2 separate regions of the Homo sapiens genome follow, and region 1 is linked to region 2. Evidence: fine-mapped expression QTL. A gene starts in region 2. The other region holds a variant in brackets. All regions are shown on one strand. Distances are from middle to middle. Region 1 overlaps FAM120A (family with sequence similarity 120 member A). Region 2 holds the start of FAM120A (family with sequence similarity 120 member A).

Region 1 (8,338 bases), 53 kb after region 2:
TAAAGGAGGTAGGGCTTGTAACCTGGAGATGGGCATGGAGTGGCTGAATCTCCACTGCGAGGTCAGTAAATGGCAGCAGCCTCCCAGTGGGGCTCTTTGCTGCTCTCTTGCTCCCCTGCAATCCATTTTCTTCCCAGCAGCCAAAGTAATGTTTAAAAATGGCAGTTGGACTGTGCTACTCCCATGCTCAGAATTCCCCATTGGCTTCCCGTCACACTTGGAATAAATTCCCAACTACTTACCTTGCTTCCTCCCCATCATCTGAGACTGCTGGCTTCTCACTCCTGAGCGCAGCCTCCTTTCTTGCCTTGCATGAACCAAGCTAGCTTCTGCCCTGGGCCTCTGGGCCGGCTTTTGTGCCTGGAGGGCTCCTTTCTCTGACCAGCTTGTGTTTGTGCCCTTCTGATTTGTGAGATCCAGGCTGTCGTGTTCTCCAAGGTCTGCCTGGCTTTAAATCTCTGCACACTCCTTGGCTTCTATTTGTCACCACCACCACCCCTTCCCCCGTCACTCCCCACAATGTAAAGTCTAGGGTAATGAGGGCCTATTAGTCACCTTTACTTTTATATCCCCAGTGGATAAATATTTGACTGAATGAATTGATCCACTTGGTTTTTAAATCAAGAGAGTGAAGTGGTGAGATGTGTTTTAGGATTATTTTTGGAAAAGGGGGCACAGAGCATCAGCAGGAGGGAGACTAGCTGTATACTGTTTCATCAGTTAAGGTGAGGCATTATGGGACCAGATCTCAGTGTGTCTACTGTATACCCTGCACACAGAAGATGTCTAATAATTGCTTGTGGGAATGATGGGGAGCATGAACATTGCCACCTGTGGCCTACTGCCTCCTGACCTCGAGCTCCCTATTTTATAGAATGGGGTCATTATGTGAATATTAAAAGAGAAGGCGTATGTAAGGTGCTTTAGTGAAGTACTTGTTCAGTCATTCAATGCCCTTTTAGGTAATTCTGCCTATAAGAATAACAGATACTGTCTGATAGTAGATACTGTCATTATTCTTCTCATTGGCAGAATGGCCTCAACAGGCACTGAATGATTGGGCATTGGAATGAGCAGTGAGGAGCCTGAAGGAGCGCTCAGAGGTGGGGCCGGCAGTCTCCTGTGTTTCACTGACATTGTGCTCCTGTGGGACAGTCTGTATGGCAGGTGTAGTTTAGAAAGTCCTTAGAGTGTACTTGGGACTGGAAAATCTACTTAGGAGAAAATTAGGAAGATAAGTATAGAGAAAGGCAGCACACTTAATATTTGGCATTGATCTGGGCTCATAATTATGAAGATGTTTTGAATAGGCAAGGTGAGTTAAGTTTGAATATCTTAAAAATATGTTCTGTCAAGTGCTTTTGTGTTCTTATCAAATTATTAAGATTTTAGGTGAGTATTTTAGAGGTGAAGTTTACTCAGAATTTAGTTTCACTTTCATTTTCACTACTCGGTGGTTTATGGAGAACAGCAAAGTAACTGGTAGAGTTTGGGATGCTTGGGATGATAGTTTGAGGCAGCTTAGGGTAGGCATGAACTGCCTGTAAATCCTCCTGTACAGCATTCCCTGATGCTTCTGGCTGTTGCAGAAATGAGGGTTGTATGCGGAGGGACTAACAAAAGTACAGGCACAGAATGACAGCCAGGCAGGAAGTTTGGGCAGTGTAGAATTTTAAGATGACGGGTATGCAGTCTGGAATGGCAGGAGACAAGCCTGGAGAGAGGCTTCAGGCAAGATTGGGAAGGACGTTTTGTTTCAAGCTGCATACACATGATTTGGAACTAGCAGAAATGGATTCTTGTAAAAATAACTTTAGTTTTTTTCTGATAACTCTGAAGAAACATAAATTACATTAGCTGTCATTGATTTTTACCCCTGCATACTACTGGGATCCTACCAGTGAAACTAACAGGGCGAAGACTGGAACCTAAGTTGAAAGTCTAGAAGGAACAACATGGAGTCGGTGGGACCCTTTCTGGCAACTCAAGTTAGAACCCATGATGTATTTTCCACAGAAATATTTTTATAAGTAGTAGATAGGTCCTAAGTGGTCTTTGGTGATCTGTCATAGAATCCAACCACAGTCCATTATATTATTCTACAGGAAAATAATTCAGAATTTTGAAGAACCAATGTGGGGATATTAGTTTCTTGTTGTATTAGAATTTATCTTATTAATCATTCAGAAATTGGAATATGTGTAGAGTTTTGAAGAAATTTTAGGGTAATCATATTATAAGCTTAGAGAGCATGGCTATAGGGGAAAAACATGGGGTGAGTTGATCTAACCAGAGGTTTCTAAACTTGGCTGGAATTTTAGATTCCACCTCAAAACTGCTATTTTAGCATCTTAATTGGGCCTTAGGAATTTATATTTTTTAAAAAGGAATGTTCCTAGCTAGGTACCAGTTGGCCTGGCTTTTAGGAACCACAACTCATCCTCTGTGCCTTTCTTTGTAAGCCTGTAAATCTATCTGCAATATTGAGAAAAATACCTCAGATCTCTAAACAGTTATTGGGTAGTGTAGAGTTCTTAGGAGGACACATACACACACACACACACACACACACACACACACACGCACACTTGCAATATAGTCTCCCAGAAATTGTGTATTTTGAGATGATTTTGAAAATAAGTGGTGGTGAGATGCATACTTATTTTTAAGCATTCACTATGTCATAATTACTAAGCGAGGACCTGCCTATCTGGAAATGGTTGTGATTTGTTCTTTCTGTCTCAGCATGTAAAATCTGCTATAGCTCTCCACGAAATCACCAATCTAAATGCAAGCACAAATAAGATATGTGATAGTTGAGATTTCAAAATATTTAGTTCCCTAGTTAAACCAGTTGCTTCAAAATCATTGGTGGAATTTACTAAAGTAACAAGTAACACAACTAACACTGAGGTCTCACCTCAGATCTGTGGATGTGGAATCTATGGGCACAGATCCCGTGTGCAGGTGAAATTGAGGCTGAAGAAGTAGCCACTGTGTCATTGGCCTTCCTTAGTGAAAAGTAAATGGGCTCCTACTACACATTTTAATTACACATTTGTTAGAATGATTAACATAGAAAACACCAACAACACTAAATGCTGGTGAGGATGGGTAGCAACAGATTGTGCTGCTAATGGGATTGCAAAAATGGTACAGCGACTTTGGAAGACAGCTTCGCAGATATTTACAAAATTCCCAAGTCATGCTTGTTGGTGTTTGCCCAAAGGAGTTGAAAACTTATGTCTACGCAAAAACCTGCACACAGATATTTAAAGCAACTTTATTCATAATAGCCAACGCTTGGAGGCTACCAATATGTCTTCAGTAGGTCAACAGGGAAATAAAGTTTGGTGTATCTAAGCAATGAAATAATCAACACTAAAAAGCAATGCGCTATCAAGCCATGAAAAGATGCAGAGGAACATAAGTACATATCACTAAGTGAAAGAAGCCAATCAGAAAAGGCTACATACTGTGCGATTCCAACTATAGGACATCTGGAAAAGGCCAAAAGTATGGAGGCAGGAAAAAGATCAAGGGTTGCCAGAGGTTGTGGGGAGGGAGGGATGATTAGGCAGATTTTTGGGGCAGTGAAACTATTCTGTATGATACTGTAACGGTGGATACATGGCATTATACTTCTAGCCATATCCAGAATACGTACAGCACCAAGAGTGAACCCTAATGCCAACTGTGGGCATTAGGTAATCATAATGTAGCCAGGTTTGGCTCATTGGTTGGAACAAATGTGTCACACCAATGCGAAGTGTGTACTCTGCTCAAGATTTTTGTAACCTTGAAACTGCTCAAAAAAAAAAGTATATATATATATATTTTAAAGTAAAGAGCTCGTTGATTTGTGCATTTCATGACAGGCAGTGTGCTGGGTGCTGAATGGTGTGGTAAATAAGAGAGGAGTTACCGTTGCCCCTACAGATGAATGTATAGTGGGGAAGTGAACACCAGGGAATCCTGCAGGAAAGAGAACAGGAACCTCAAGGAAGACCAACCTGATTGAATCAATCTACGATTAAAATGGCTGGTTCTGATTGATTAGATTATTGTTGAGTGGGGTTTGGGGGTTCAGGCATCTAGCAAGGTGCCAATATGGGAAGAAGTGTATTCCATGCAGGGGAGGTGGCATGTGAGAGGTCCTGAGTTAGGAGGACATAGTGAAGAAGAAAAATAAGAAGAATGTGGTTGAAGCACAGAAAGCGGGGAGAGTGGTCAGGTGATGCTGAGAGCGGCAGTGCAGTTGCCAGGCACCACCTTGGATTTTAGACTTTATTCTTAGAACGTGAAAGCTCATGGAATAATTTTTACCTGTAAAAAAAATGATTTTGTAACTATCATACTACAATGTGTTAGTCTTAGAACATTACTAATATCTTAGCCCTCTTATATGTCTTCGCTGGTTGCATTCCTCGACTCTCTACCACCCTCAATTTTGTATTAGTTATTCTGTGCTTCTCTATATAATTTTATCGTGTCTGTATGTCTGGATACTAAATAGTTTCATTTTGTTTGTTATGAAATAAAATCATATAGCATGTACTCCTCTGACTTGCCTTCTTAATATTTATATTATTGTGTTTCATTCATGTTGGCATAGTTCATTTTTTAATGCTGTGCAGCATTCCATTGTATTAATATATATTTGTCCATTCTACTGTTGATGGAAAATGGACTGTTTCCAGCTGCTTGCCATGATGGATAGCGCACTTGTGAACATTGTTTCATGTGACCTGATGTGCCCAGGAGTGGAATTCCAGGGAACCTCCAGGGTAGGGCCCTGTTCAAGCCTCTGCTGCTGCCGGACACGGATACACCTATTTATTCTCCTGGCAGAAGTGAAAGAACCCTCTCATTGCTCCACGTTTTATTATTTTTTGGTCTAGTGATTATGAAACTATATCCTGTAAAGGTTTCAGTTGCATTTCCCTGATTACTAATGAGGTTGAGAATCTTTATGTTTATGGGCCAGTAGGGTTTCCTCTATTGTGAAATGCTTGTTCATGTTGTT[C/T]GCTTGTGTTTTTTTTTTTTTTTTTTTTTTTTTTTGAGAAGGAGTCTCGCTCTGTCACCCAGGCTGGAGTGCAGTGGCGCAATCTCGGCTCACTGCAAGCTCCGCCTCCCAGGTTCACACCATTCTCCTGCCTCAGCTTCCCGAGTAGCTGGGACTACAGGCACTCGCCACCACGCCTGGCTAATTTTTTGTATTTTTAGTAGAGATGGGGTTTCACAATGCTAGCCAAGATGGTCTCAATCTCCTGACCTCGTGATCCGCCCGCCTCGGCCTCCCGAAATGCTGGGATTACAGGCGTGAGCCACTGCGCCCGGCCTGTTCGCTTGTGTTTCTGTTGGGTTGTTTTTCTTTTTGCTTATTCATAGGGATACTTAATATATATATTGGATGCTAGTCAGATAAATGGACTGCAAATAATAATCTTCCAATCTGTGGCTTGCATTTTTCTGTCTTCATGATGTGCTTTGATATCAGAGTTCTTAATGTCAAATACATGAATTTTTCCCTTTGTTGTTTGTACCTTTAAGTCCTATCCTGTATTTATGGATGAAATGATGTCATGTCTGAGATTTGCTTCACAATAATGCAGTAGTGGGCAAAGAAGGGTGGAAGTGCAGATGACACGCAATAGGCTGTGTGCTGGTTAATTTTGAGGGTGGTTGATAGATATGTGTGGCTTATTGTACAGTTCCCTTTTTTCTTGTGTTTGTTTAAAGTGTTACATGAGAAGGAGAAAAAGAAAACATAAAGGAAGAATTCCTCCCTAGCCTGAGGTGATAAACACTTTGTCTTCTAAAAGTTTTATTTATGATTTTGCCCTTTGATACTACCTGGCACTGAATTTTGTTTATGGTTTTTGAGTGAGGGAATTCAGTTTCTTGTTCACCGTGTGGAGAACCTGTTGCCTTAGTATTGTCCACTGAGAATGCTATCCTCTTCTGACATGTTGAGTGTCTCCGTGTGTGGGTCTGTTTCTGGGCTCAGTTCTGTTGAATTTCTGATTATCTTCATGCCACAGGATTATGCCGTTCTAGTTGCCATAGCCTTGTAATAATACTTGATGTCTGATTGGGGAAATCTGCCCATGTAATATTTCTGCAAGAGGTCGAGACTGTTCTTGATCCTTTTCACTTTTATGTACATTTTATGATCCTTGTGGAGATTTTGATTGGAATTACACCAACTCTGTAGATCAATTTGGAAAGAATAAAATCTTTATTATTGAGTGTACTAAAGAAAATGTTACATTTCTTTATTGATTTGAATTGTCCTGAATATCTTTCCGTAAACTTGAATTTTCTTCATTAAGCATTCATAACATCTTTTCTTAGAGATATTGCTAAATATTTATTTTTGGGTGCTATTTCTATGTGTGTCTTATATTTTCAAATTAATACTGTAAGTTGATTTTATCTTAACAACTTTGCTCAGTTCTTATTAATTTTCATAGTTTATTTGTATCTTGCTTTGGCTGATTGTGTCTCCTCTAGTATCTTTTTGATCTTCCTGATCCACTGAGCCAGCTGTGACTTAGGGCATGATTTTTTTTTTTCTTCTTTTTTTTTTGTTTTCAAGATGGAGTCTCGCTCTGTCGCCCAGACTGGAGTGCAGTGATACAATCTCAGCTCACTGCAACCTCCACCTCCTGGGTTCAAGCAATTCTCCTGCCTCAGCCTCCCGAGTAGCTGGGATTACAGGTGCCTGCCACCATGCCCGGCTAATTTTTGTATTTTTAGTAGAGACGGGGTTTCACTGTGTTAGCCAGGCTGATCTCGAACTCCTGACCTCATGATCTGCCCACCTCGGCCTCCCAAAGTGCTGTCCACAAATGGACAGGTGTGAGCTACCACACCTGGCCGGGGCACGATTTTTAATAGAAGGTGCGATGGTGACTGTTCTTGTCTAGCCCTTGATCTTAAGGGGGAGTCTGATGTCTTGTCATCTTAACCCTTAGCATTATCTCCTCTACCTTTTCCATGTTAAAGAAATATCCTCATGAAAGAGTTTTAATCTGGGAGTGGTGTGCTGAGGTGTGCATTTGAATTGCTTGGGCCTCAGTGTGCAGAGGGGATCAGAGTGGGCAAGGGCAGGTATAGGGAAAGGAGTGGGAAACTCTTTCAGTATTGAGGCAAGGCATGGTTGCAGTCCCTGGGGCAAGTTCTCCTCTGTGGGAGGCAGGAGTGCTGGGTGGATTTCATAGGTTTTTGGGAGATGGAATAAGTAGATAGTAGATATTGATGCTTGATTATAGAAGCTCAATGAAAAGAATTCGGGGGAAATGGCTCCCAGAGTTTTGGCTTGAGCAGCTCAGGTGAGGATGCCATTAATGAGATAAAGATGGTTGGAGGAAGAGCAGATTTGGAGGATGGTTTTGGATACGAATGTTGAGGCGCCTTCTAGGATCCCGGTGGAGATGGGAAACAGGCATTAGAATGCACAGGTGAAAGCAGAGTGAGGAGCTAAGCTGGAGTCATGGGTTGCAGCTTTGCTGGTGTGTAATGCTGAGAGGAGCTGTGGTGGTGGAAGCGGAGGATAAAGAGATGGCGCCCCTGGGGCCAGATGCAGGAGGTGGGTGCACAGAAAGAGTGGCTCAGCGAGGCCAGGGGAGATACCCTGTGCACAGTTGTTAGCAGCGCTGAGTTCTGAGAGGTTGGGCAAGATGAGGGCGCTGCCTGATAGATGGAGTGTCAGTAGGACCACTCAGGGCAGGCTTCGGCTGAATTTGGAGCTCCCAAACCTTGTGTATGTACAATTGGTTGGCCCTCAATAAGAGGCAGTGGATCCTAGGAAAAGTCATTTTTAGCTTTCCTTCTTCCTCAGTATAGAAATTCGTAGAAGAGGATAGGATGGGTGGCAAGTACCACGCCTCTCTCCAGTCATTTCCATAAAGGGGTGGGGCTTTGAAATGCAGGGGAGAATTGAACAGGTTGAAGTTGTTATGGGGATGATGACTACTGAGAGAGAGGGGTTAAAGATACAGAAGGGAGTGGTTTTGGTGCACATGTGGTTTTACAGTGAAGGTAGGGGAGCTTGATCTCTCATAGCAGACAGCCTCCTGCTACCTGGTCTTTTGAAAGTCTAGCCTCCACTAAGCAGCATGGGGAGGTCACAGAGTGAGTAGACTGAGGGCATATGTGTAGAGCAGCCAGGCTGCTGTGTGTCAGAGAAGAAATTTGCAAATAGGACCATGTTGAAAAAGGTGCTAATCAGTACTAAGCAAAGAACAGATGCTACACAGTGATGAGCAACCTGGTCCTGGTCACAGCAACACAGTGACCTCTGGGTGTAGCAGCTGCCAGGTGCTTGGGAAGG
Region 2 (8,338 bases):
CTTAAGAGAGAATATATATACTCAACTGAGTACTGTCTTTCAAAGCAGTCCCTGTCAGTTTGTCCATTGATTCCATAGCAGCTCTCACTGCCCACCCTGCTTGAGAAGCCTCTTGGAGTTGCCTAGAGAGTCTATAGCACTCATCTGAAGGCCCTCCATGAGAACAACTCTTCTCTTCCACATAGATATTTTTGCATCAGCCCAAAGCTATTTGGACACAAGTTTGGTGAACACGGTAAGAAAAAAACAAACCAAGCAACAAAAACAAAAAGCAGGCAGTGCTGTGTTAGACTGAAAGTAAAAGATAAAAACTCTAAGAACCTATGAAGCGCCAGGGCAGTGCTGGTTGCTTTCACCCATATGGTCTCCTTTGGTGTTCTGCTGGTGCTTATGAAGCAGTATCCCTACTGACAATGACCCTAGCTTAAGAGGGCTGAGAACTGCTGAAAGTGAAGCTGTTTATAAATGGTACAGTCAGGACCGACAGACACATGGGTGTGGTATGACTGCAAAGTACCTGTGGAATTCAGATGGGATTACCATCCCCACTATAAAGGGCAATATGATCTGTTGCAGGAGGGTTTATAGGGTACTTAGTTACACAGGTCACACTGATCCCCTTTTCCTCTTTTTTTCTATGCAAGTATCTATTTGTCTATATGTCTGTCTACCTTGGTAGGTTGGGCTCCTTGAAGAAGGGTTATGTTTTCTTCATCTCCATATCCCCAGTAGCTGGCCAATGCCCAGTATACACCAGGGGCTCAGTCGCTGTTTGTCTTATTTTCTTGTTGACTCTACTCTGACTTAGGACATATCACTTTCCTCTCTTGACCTTCACATTCAGATGTGTTAATAAAAGTGGATAAAGACCACTCTAGCTTTAAAACACCCTCCAATATAGAGAGAACTCTGAAACCAGAAGCAGAAGCTGAGGAATGGTGAATAGAGCATTTTCCCTCACACGATGGGTATCAGGGTGGTTTCTTGTCCTTTCAATGCCTCTGCAGAACTTGACCCTAGTTTTTCAAATTGGACTCAAGAATGATCTTAGTGTTGGTGGTTTTGTGGTTTTCTTTGAGACTTTGTTATTGACAGAACAGCTTCTGGAAATCTGAAAAGAAAAAAAAAAAGGTAGTTTATATATTAGTTTGGAATATGAAATGTATTTTGTCATGGTCTCCAGAGTCCGAATATTGATCTCTGTGGAGCTCTCCTACCCTCTGCTACTGCTGATAACTCATAGTACTGGAGAGATAGCAGAGCCTGAAGACCAAAAAACTCAACTGCCGATACACGGCTGCAGTGTGGTCAGTTACTGATCTACCATTTATGAAGCAGGCCTACAGATGTGTGTGTTCTTCTGGGTAATTTAAATTGACAATTAATTAACAGGGCTGGTGCTAGGTAAACATTATAGGTTAGAATCCCTAGTGTGGATTAATTTGCTCTCTTCCATGATCGCAGACTCCCTGCTTAGCTCCAGTCTGCTGGTCTCCCAACATCTGCTAATGATTACATGGGCAGCATTAAGGTCTCTTATTACCTTGTTTGAAAAACTGGAAACTCATCTGTTATTGTTGGTGGTTAGATACCTCACCTAAGTAAAATATTAATTAATGATATTAGGCTGGGCGCGGTAGCTCATGCCTGTAATCCCTGCACTTTGGGAGGCAGAGGCAAGTGGATCACTTGAAGTCAGGAGTTCGAGACTGGCCTGGCCAACATGGTGAAACCCCGTCTCTACTAAAAATACAAAACTTAGCCAGGTGTGATGGTGTGTACCTGTAATCCCAGCTACTCCAGAGGCTGAGGCAGGAGATCACTTGAACCTGGGAGAGGGAGGTTGCAGTGAGCTGAGAACACATCATTGTACTCCAGCCTGGGCAACAGAGCAAGACTCCATCTTGGGGGAGAAAAAATAAATAAAATAAATACAAAATAAAAAAAGAAAAAGTCCCCAACCATTAGTTGTCATATTGTAACCTCCAAGAAGACATAACTTTTTATTAAATTTTAAATACAGATGTTTATTTTTTATTTTTTATTTTTAAGATGGAGTCTCGCTCTGTTGCCCAGGCTAGAATGCAGTGGCGTGATCTCGGCTCACTGCAAGCTCCGCCTCCTGGGTTCACGCCATTCTCCTGCCTCAGCCTCCTGAGTAGCTGGGACTATAGGCGCCTGCCACCACGCCCGGCTAATTTTTTTTTGTATTTTTTTTAGTAGAGACGGAGTTTCACCGTGTTAGCCAGGATGGTCTGGATTTCCTGACCTTGTGATCCGCCCACCTCAGCCTCCCAAAGTGCTGGGATTACAGGCGTGAGCCACTGCGCCCGGCCCAGATGTTTATTTTTACCTCAATATTTAAGCAATTTAACTTCAACCAACCCCTGAATTTGAGTTAAGGATGCAGAGTATATAAGTGTTTGTCAGCTAAACATTTTGCCCACCATCAATAGCTACTCAATAAATAAAGTTTTTTTTTTTTTTTTTTAAAGAACACAAAGCTAAATAGGGCAACTAAGAATTGAGTTTTATGTGTTATGATACAATAATGAATTTTAAACTTTCCAAAAGTACAATAACTGGTCTATGTTCTCGAGTATAAGTCTAGACAAATACAGTTTCTGGAAATAACTACAAAAGCCAACATTTATTGAGCATTTGTTGTGTGGCAGGCACACAGGTTATCTGATTTAATCCTTATAACAACCTGGGAGGTTAAGTACTATTAATATGTTGATTTTACAGATGATAAAATCCAAGGTTCAATAAGGTAAATATTTTTGCAAGGGCACAGACTTATCATAAGATGGATATTGGGGGCCTGACTCCAGAACCTTAGACCTCTACAATATAATAAGGTGAAAATAAATTTATTTCCAGAATTCCAGATACTGGCACTGGCATTTTTTTTTTTTTTTTTTTTTGAGATGGAGCCTCGCTCTGTTGCCAGTCTGGAGTGCAGTGGCGTGATCACTGCAACCTCCACCTCCCAGGTTCAAGCAATTCTCCTGCCTCAGCCTCCCGAGTAGCTGGGACTACAGGTGCGCACCACCACGCTCGGCTAATTTTTGTGTTTTTAGTAGAGATGGGGTTTTACCATGTTGGCTAGGATGGTCTCCATCTCTTGACCTCGTGATCTGCCCGCCTCGGCCTCCCAACGTGCTGGGATTACAGGCGTGAGCCACCACGCCCGGCCGCACTAATGCATTTTTAAAAATTAAAAGCAAGAGTGTTTAAAGAAAAGGTAAATACACGGAATGCAATGCTACAAATGAAAATACGAGTGATTAAAAACTACTACTCCTCACCTTGTGAACCTGCCTTGGGTTATAAAAGCAAATTTGGATATTTCTGGATTTTGCTCGTTATTTAATGGCTAACTGTATTATTTCTTTTATTTATTTATTTATTTTTGAGACGGAATCTCGCTTTTTGCCCAGGCTAGAGAGTGCAGTGGTGCCATCTCCGCTGACTGCAACCTCCGCCTCCCGGGTTCAACCAATTCTCCTGCCTCAGCCTCCCAAGTAGCTGGGATTACAGGCGCACACACCACCAGGCCCGCCTAATTTTTGCATTTTTAGTAGAGACGGGGTTTCACCATGTTGGCCAGGCTGGTCTCGAACTCCTGATCTCAAATGATTCACCCGCCTCGGCCTCCCAAAATGCTGGGATTACAGGCGTGAGCCACCGCACCTGGCCTGTATTATTTTTAGATAACATGTCATCCTGGCTTTGTGACTAATTTTATGCATAGGTGAGTGGCATAACTTGTCAGCCTGCTTTTAAATGTAACTTCCTAAAATACCAGCAGCATTTAATTTATGTACGTATGATACTGGCTTGCATTTGAGGTGGGTATCAGAAAAGAAAGCAGAAAAATCCAACTTGCCTTTTTCACCGGGAGTATGGGGGCTTCTTTGGCCAAACCGTGCGCGTGCAGGCTCCATGTGCTGGGCAGCAGCTGTCCGGCCACAGCCTGTCGGTTGCATCCTGCTCCTCTACAGAGGTTTCTCCAAAAAAAGAACAAATGGAGAGATGAAGGTAAGTAAAAGCGGCACTTTAAAACTTTTAGAGTGCTGGGTTTCTAAATTTATATTCTGAAAGACATTAATCTCTTTTTGAAAATGTTTTATGCAAGCCTAATATACATACAGTATCAACCTCATTTTAGAAGCAGTTACGACAGAGCTTTGGAACAGAATTTACGTAAACGACCTCCTTCCAGAAGATGCTACTAAAGCAACAAGATTCAAATCCCTCTCCCTCAGAAGAGCTGGGAGATCCACTGCAAAGGCGCACGTTTCAGTCTAGCCATTGCGCAGTGGTAACGCAGGCTTTCCCACGCTGCAACAGACCTGTGCTCTCAAGACAGTCTCTTCCGTGACGAGCAGGCGCTTAGGGCTACCTGTACCTTCAGACATTATGGTGTGTTTGGCCATGTCATTTGTCATAGGTGTAAAAACCACAACCGAGAGCCCGAAGCTGCTGGGATGAGCACCTGCCGCGGAACTGCATTCTCGCGCTCCTTCCTGCTCTTTCCAAGAAGCCAGGCGCGGCCGGCCAGCATCCCGCTCTCCCGGACCCCGCAGTCAGTGTGGGCAGCAGGCCCAGAGTGGTGCGAGCCGACGGCGGCGTTAGAAAGGCGGCGTCCCGACGAACAGAGTGACTCGGCCTCGGCTCCCCTTCAAAGCGCCATCTTATCGCTGCTTCCCTCAGGAGCAGGCGAGCTCTTCCCCAGGACCTGCTTCGCGGCTTCCCTTCGCCCGAGAACCACCGGGCGGAGGCGGCGGCCTCTCTGGCCCTGCCGGGAACAGGGCGCAGGGGAGGGGAGCGGCGGCCGACCGGCCTGAGGCGGGCGAACGGCCTCTGGCCTCCAGGCGCTGCCTGCTCCGGCTCAGAAGCCTCCCGGATCCCGTCCCGGCCCAACTCCGGGCCTCCGCCTCCGCCGCCGCCTCCGGGAGCCCCGAGCCGCGTCCCGCCGGCGCCGCCTCTTCCGCCTGCTAGCCGGCGGGCCTGGGCGGCGTCCGCGCCGGGCGGGTCCGCTACGTCAGCGCCGCCCGCCCGCCCCGCCCCGGCCCTCAGCCTCGGCCTCGGCCTCGGCCTCGCAGCGGCGGCAGCGGCGGCGGCGGCAGGTCCCTCCCCAGACATGGCCCTGGGAGGCGGCAGCACATGGCGGCCGCGGCGGCCATGAGCGCGCCCCCGACCCGCCCCAGTCCCCCCTAGAGGCCGCCGCCCCCGCCCGCCAGCCCGCCCGCGCGCCACGGCCCCACCACCCCCGGCCCCGCCGCCCCCCGCCCGCACCCGCGCCCGCGCCCCCGCCGCCGCCATGGGCGTGCAGGGCTTCCAGGACTACATCGAGAAGCACTGCCCGAGCGCCGTGGTGCCGGTGGAGCTGCAGAAGCTGGCCCGGGGCAGCCTGGTGGGCGGCGGGCGGCAGCGGCCCCCGCAGACCCCGCTGCGCCTGCTGGTGGACGCCGACAACTGCCTGCACCGCCTCTACGGCGGCTTCTACACCGACTGGGTCAGCGGCGGCCAGTGGAACCACATGCTTGGCTACCTGGCGGCGCTGGCCAAGGCCTGCTTCGGCGGCAACATCGAGCTCTTCGTCTTCTTCAACGGCGCGCTCGAGAAGGCCCGGCTGCACGAGTGGGTCAAGCGGCAGGGCAACGAGCGCCAGACGGCACAGCAGATCGTCAGCCATGTCCAGAACAAGGGCACCCCGCCGCCAAAGGTCTGGTTCCTGCCGCCCGTCTGCATGGCCCACTGCATCCGCCTGGCGCTCATCCGCTTCCACGTCAAGGTGAGGCCGGGGATCCGGGCGGGCCGGGGACCGGGGCCGCGCCGCACCCCTATCCCCCTTCCCAGGGCGCAGAATGTCGCCCGGCCGTGGCGGCGCTGGGGGCAGCGAGTTCCCCCAGCCCTTGCCCGGGATAGCCTGGCCGGGCCGGGCTGCAAGATGGATGGCCGCGGGTGCAGGCCGCGCGCTGCCCAAGCCCGTCTCCAGCTGTCCCTGTTCGGGGTCCGCGGCCGCGTGGGGACACTTGAGGGCTGGGAGAGAGCCCCGGACCAGAATTCGGAGGCGACAGTGTCATCATCCCCAATATCCTTAGTTTTTCCCATCCTATTTGAGGCGGGCAGGCTATCACTCACCTTCAACTTTGACAAAATACTCCCTTTTCTAATTTAGCCTGTTCTTTCCCAGCAACAGGTTCATCTTGGAAGCAGGCAGGATACAGAGTAATAGAGGGGGTTTCGCCAGAGCCCTTGGGGGCTGCAAATATCAGTGCTGCTGCCGCCGCCCTTGCCAATGTTGTTAGCCCGGTGACAGCGAGACGTGTCTAAGGGCCAGTGCCCTGGCCTCTACTTCAGAACGCAGTGCCCTGTCCGTGTTCCTCTTAGTACAGGGTGTTTAGAGAATCTTTCTATGGCTTTTTGTGTTAGATTTCAAAGACCCGTGCACTTTGACAGGATGGGATTTTGTCAGTTCTGTGACTTCACGTCCGTGTGAAAGAGGTCTTTAAGGCAGTTCGGTTTTGTAGATCCCATGCGAAAGGAGTCGCTCAAAATCAGGGGGCGAACTACGCGGGCGTGAACTCGCAGGATTTATTTTTCGGGTGCACAGTAAGTATTCAGTGACCTTCAGCGGTGCCCTGACGGGTGGGTAATCAGAGCTCTATATCACCGGCCTCCTCTGGCCCTTTGGCAGAGGGCTTCGCAGCTGGCACTGGGCCAGAGGAGAACTTCAGGACCCAGCAGTGACTGTGAAGATAAGCACATCCATGATCCTGGACTTCACGTTCTGATTGCTTGCTTTTTTCATTGGTTTTCTTGAAAACAAATTTTGGGGGCCTTTTTGTTGTCTTAGCTCTTGACACTCGGTCTTCCATCTTGTCATTTGACATTTCCTTGAAACTGCTGGAGCTGAAAGTTTGTGAAATTCTGTCTTCGCGGTTGCCCCCACTGCCCGCGAGGAGATGGTGGTAGTTAAGCCTAAAATGATAGCGGAAGTCCCACCCACGATCCGGTTGCAATTGGTGAGATGGTGTTTAAGTCGTGGGTGGAGGCGGCCGGCAGAGTCCCGATTGGCCCCTGCGCCTGGCAGACACACAGCTGCCATTCCTCAGGGAAGTTCGGGTGAGAGGAAGTGCCTGCCTTTTAATTTCTGAATCGGAGCCTGGGGCGCTCAGGGAAGTAAGGTGCTGCCATTTGTCTGAAGCGATCCATCTCCCTAATAGAGCGTAAAAGTGTTCATAGTTTAGTCTTGTTCAGAGATGGAAAAGACTACTTAAAAGACAGGATGAGCTGCACTGACTTGCCTTTGGTAACCGCACAGCTCTCTACTTAACTAGTCAAGCGACTTTCAAGGGAACACTGTGAATATTACTTAGGATTAGAATCAGTATGTATGCATATGGTCACTGTATCTTTAAAGAACTGTTGAGTTCTTTTTAATTCTACAGTTTCTTTATCTTTGCACCCCTTTGAATGCCTCGCACACCTAGTAGGTGCTCAGAATTCAGACCAATGTGTCAGTGTTAGGAAACTAGATTTAAGCTCCATTTAAGATCGTCTTTTTCACTTAGGTTTCTGGACACGGGATAATGGGATAATTTTGTCTGTATTTTGCTTTTGCTAAGCTTTTAATTATTGACCTAGGGTCATATTATAGTGCGAATTGCACAAAATGAATATTGTAATAACTCAATTACTTGGTGGTCTCTTAGCTGGCAACCTTACCTTTTTGAAAAGTGCCTAAGAGATTTAGCTACTAGAAATTTCTCAGCAACCAAGCAAGATGTCAGGAAGTTTGGGTACAGTGATGTGGGGGGTTGGCGGGTGTAGGGGGGTGCTTTTGCTTTCCTCACTGAAGAATCCTTTAAGCTCTCTCACTCATGGACTGGCCTCTTTTCATATGTAATTCTAACAAGCTTGGTTATCTATTTTCTAAACTCAGCTTGAGAAGAGGATGAAGAGGAGAGTCTGCCAGAGGCAGGAGCACCATTAATAGCAAGAAGTGACAAGAGAGATTTAAAAAGCTATAAAAAGCAAACATAATTCTGGGGCTATTTTAAGAAAAGGAAAACAACCCTATGTACTTCCTTGGTCCCTGAGGGTAGTACAATGTTTATTCTATAAGGATGATTTTGAGTCATAAAAATTAATATTCAGCATTCTCTGTTTAAGGGATTGAAACAGTGTATACCATTTAATAAAAGATACCCATAAAGTGGTTAAAACGTTTAAAACCATGATATCACTACATGCCTATTAGAATGGCTAAAAGAGAAAAAAATATGAGCAATACCAAGTGCTAGCAAGAATGCTGAGCAACTGG

The links. PIP is the estimated chance that this variant, and not a neighbour inherited with it, causes the effect.
Region 1: its variant is fine-mapped to the expression of FAM120A in whole blood (INTERVAL, PIP above 0.99).

What each region holds. Positions count from the first base shown.
Region 1 is chr9:93,500,018-93,508,355 of GRCh38, forward strand. The region is part of intron 5 of FAM120A (family with sequence similarity 120 member A); the gene reads left to right. Among named protein-coding and RNA genes, the nearest start is that of FAM120AOS, 51 kb to the left of the region's middle. The variant C/T (reference allele first, on the strand shown) is at 5,027.
Region 2 is chr9:93,446,587-93,454,924 of GRCh38, forward strand. FAM120A (family with sequence similarity 120 member A) reads left to right here and starts at 5,099. Exons shown (of 18, transcript NM_014612.5): 1 at 5,099-5,803. The coding sequence starts at 5,330. It overlaps FAM120AOS (family with sequence similarity 120 member A opposite strand), which reads right to left and starts at 6,995. Exons shown (of 3, transcript NM_198841.4): 1 at 5,561-6,995; 2 at 3,893-4,013; 3 at 1-1,111. The coding sequence starts at 6,123. The coding sequence ends at 1,025. RefSeq lists enhancers at 4,579-5,128, 6,708-6,837, 6,901-7,195 and silencers at 4,709-5,238, 5,379-5,508, 5,809-5,988.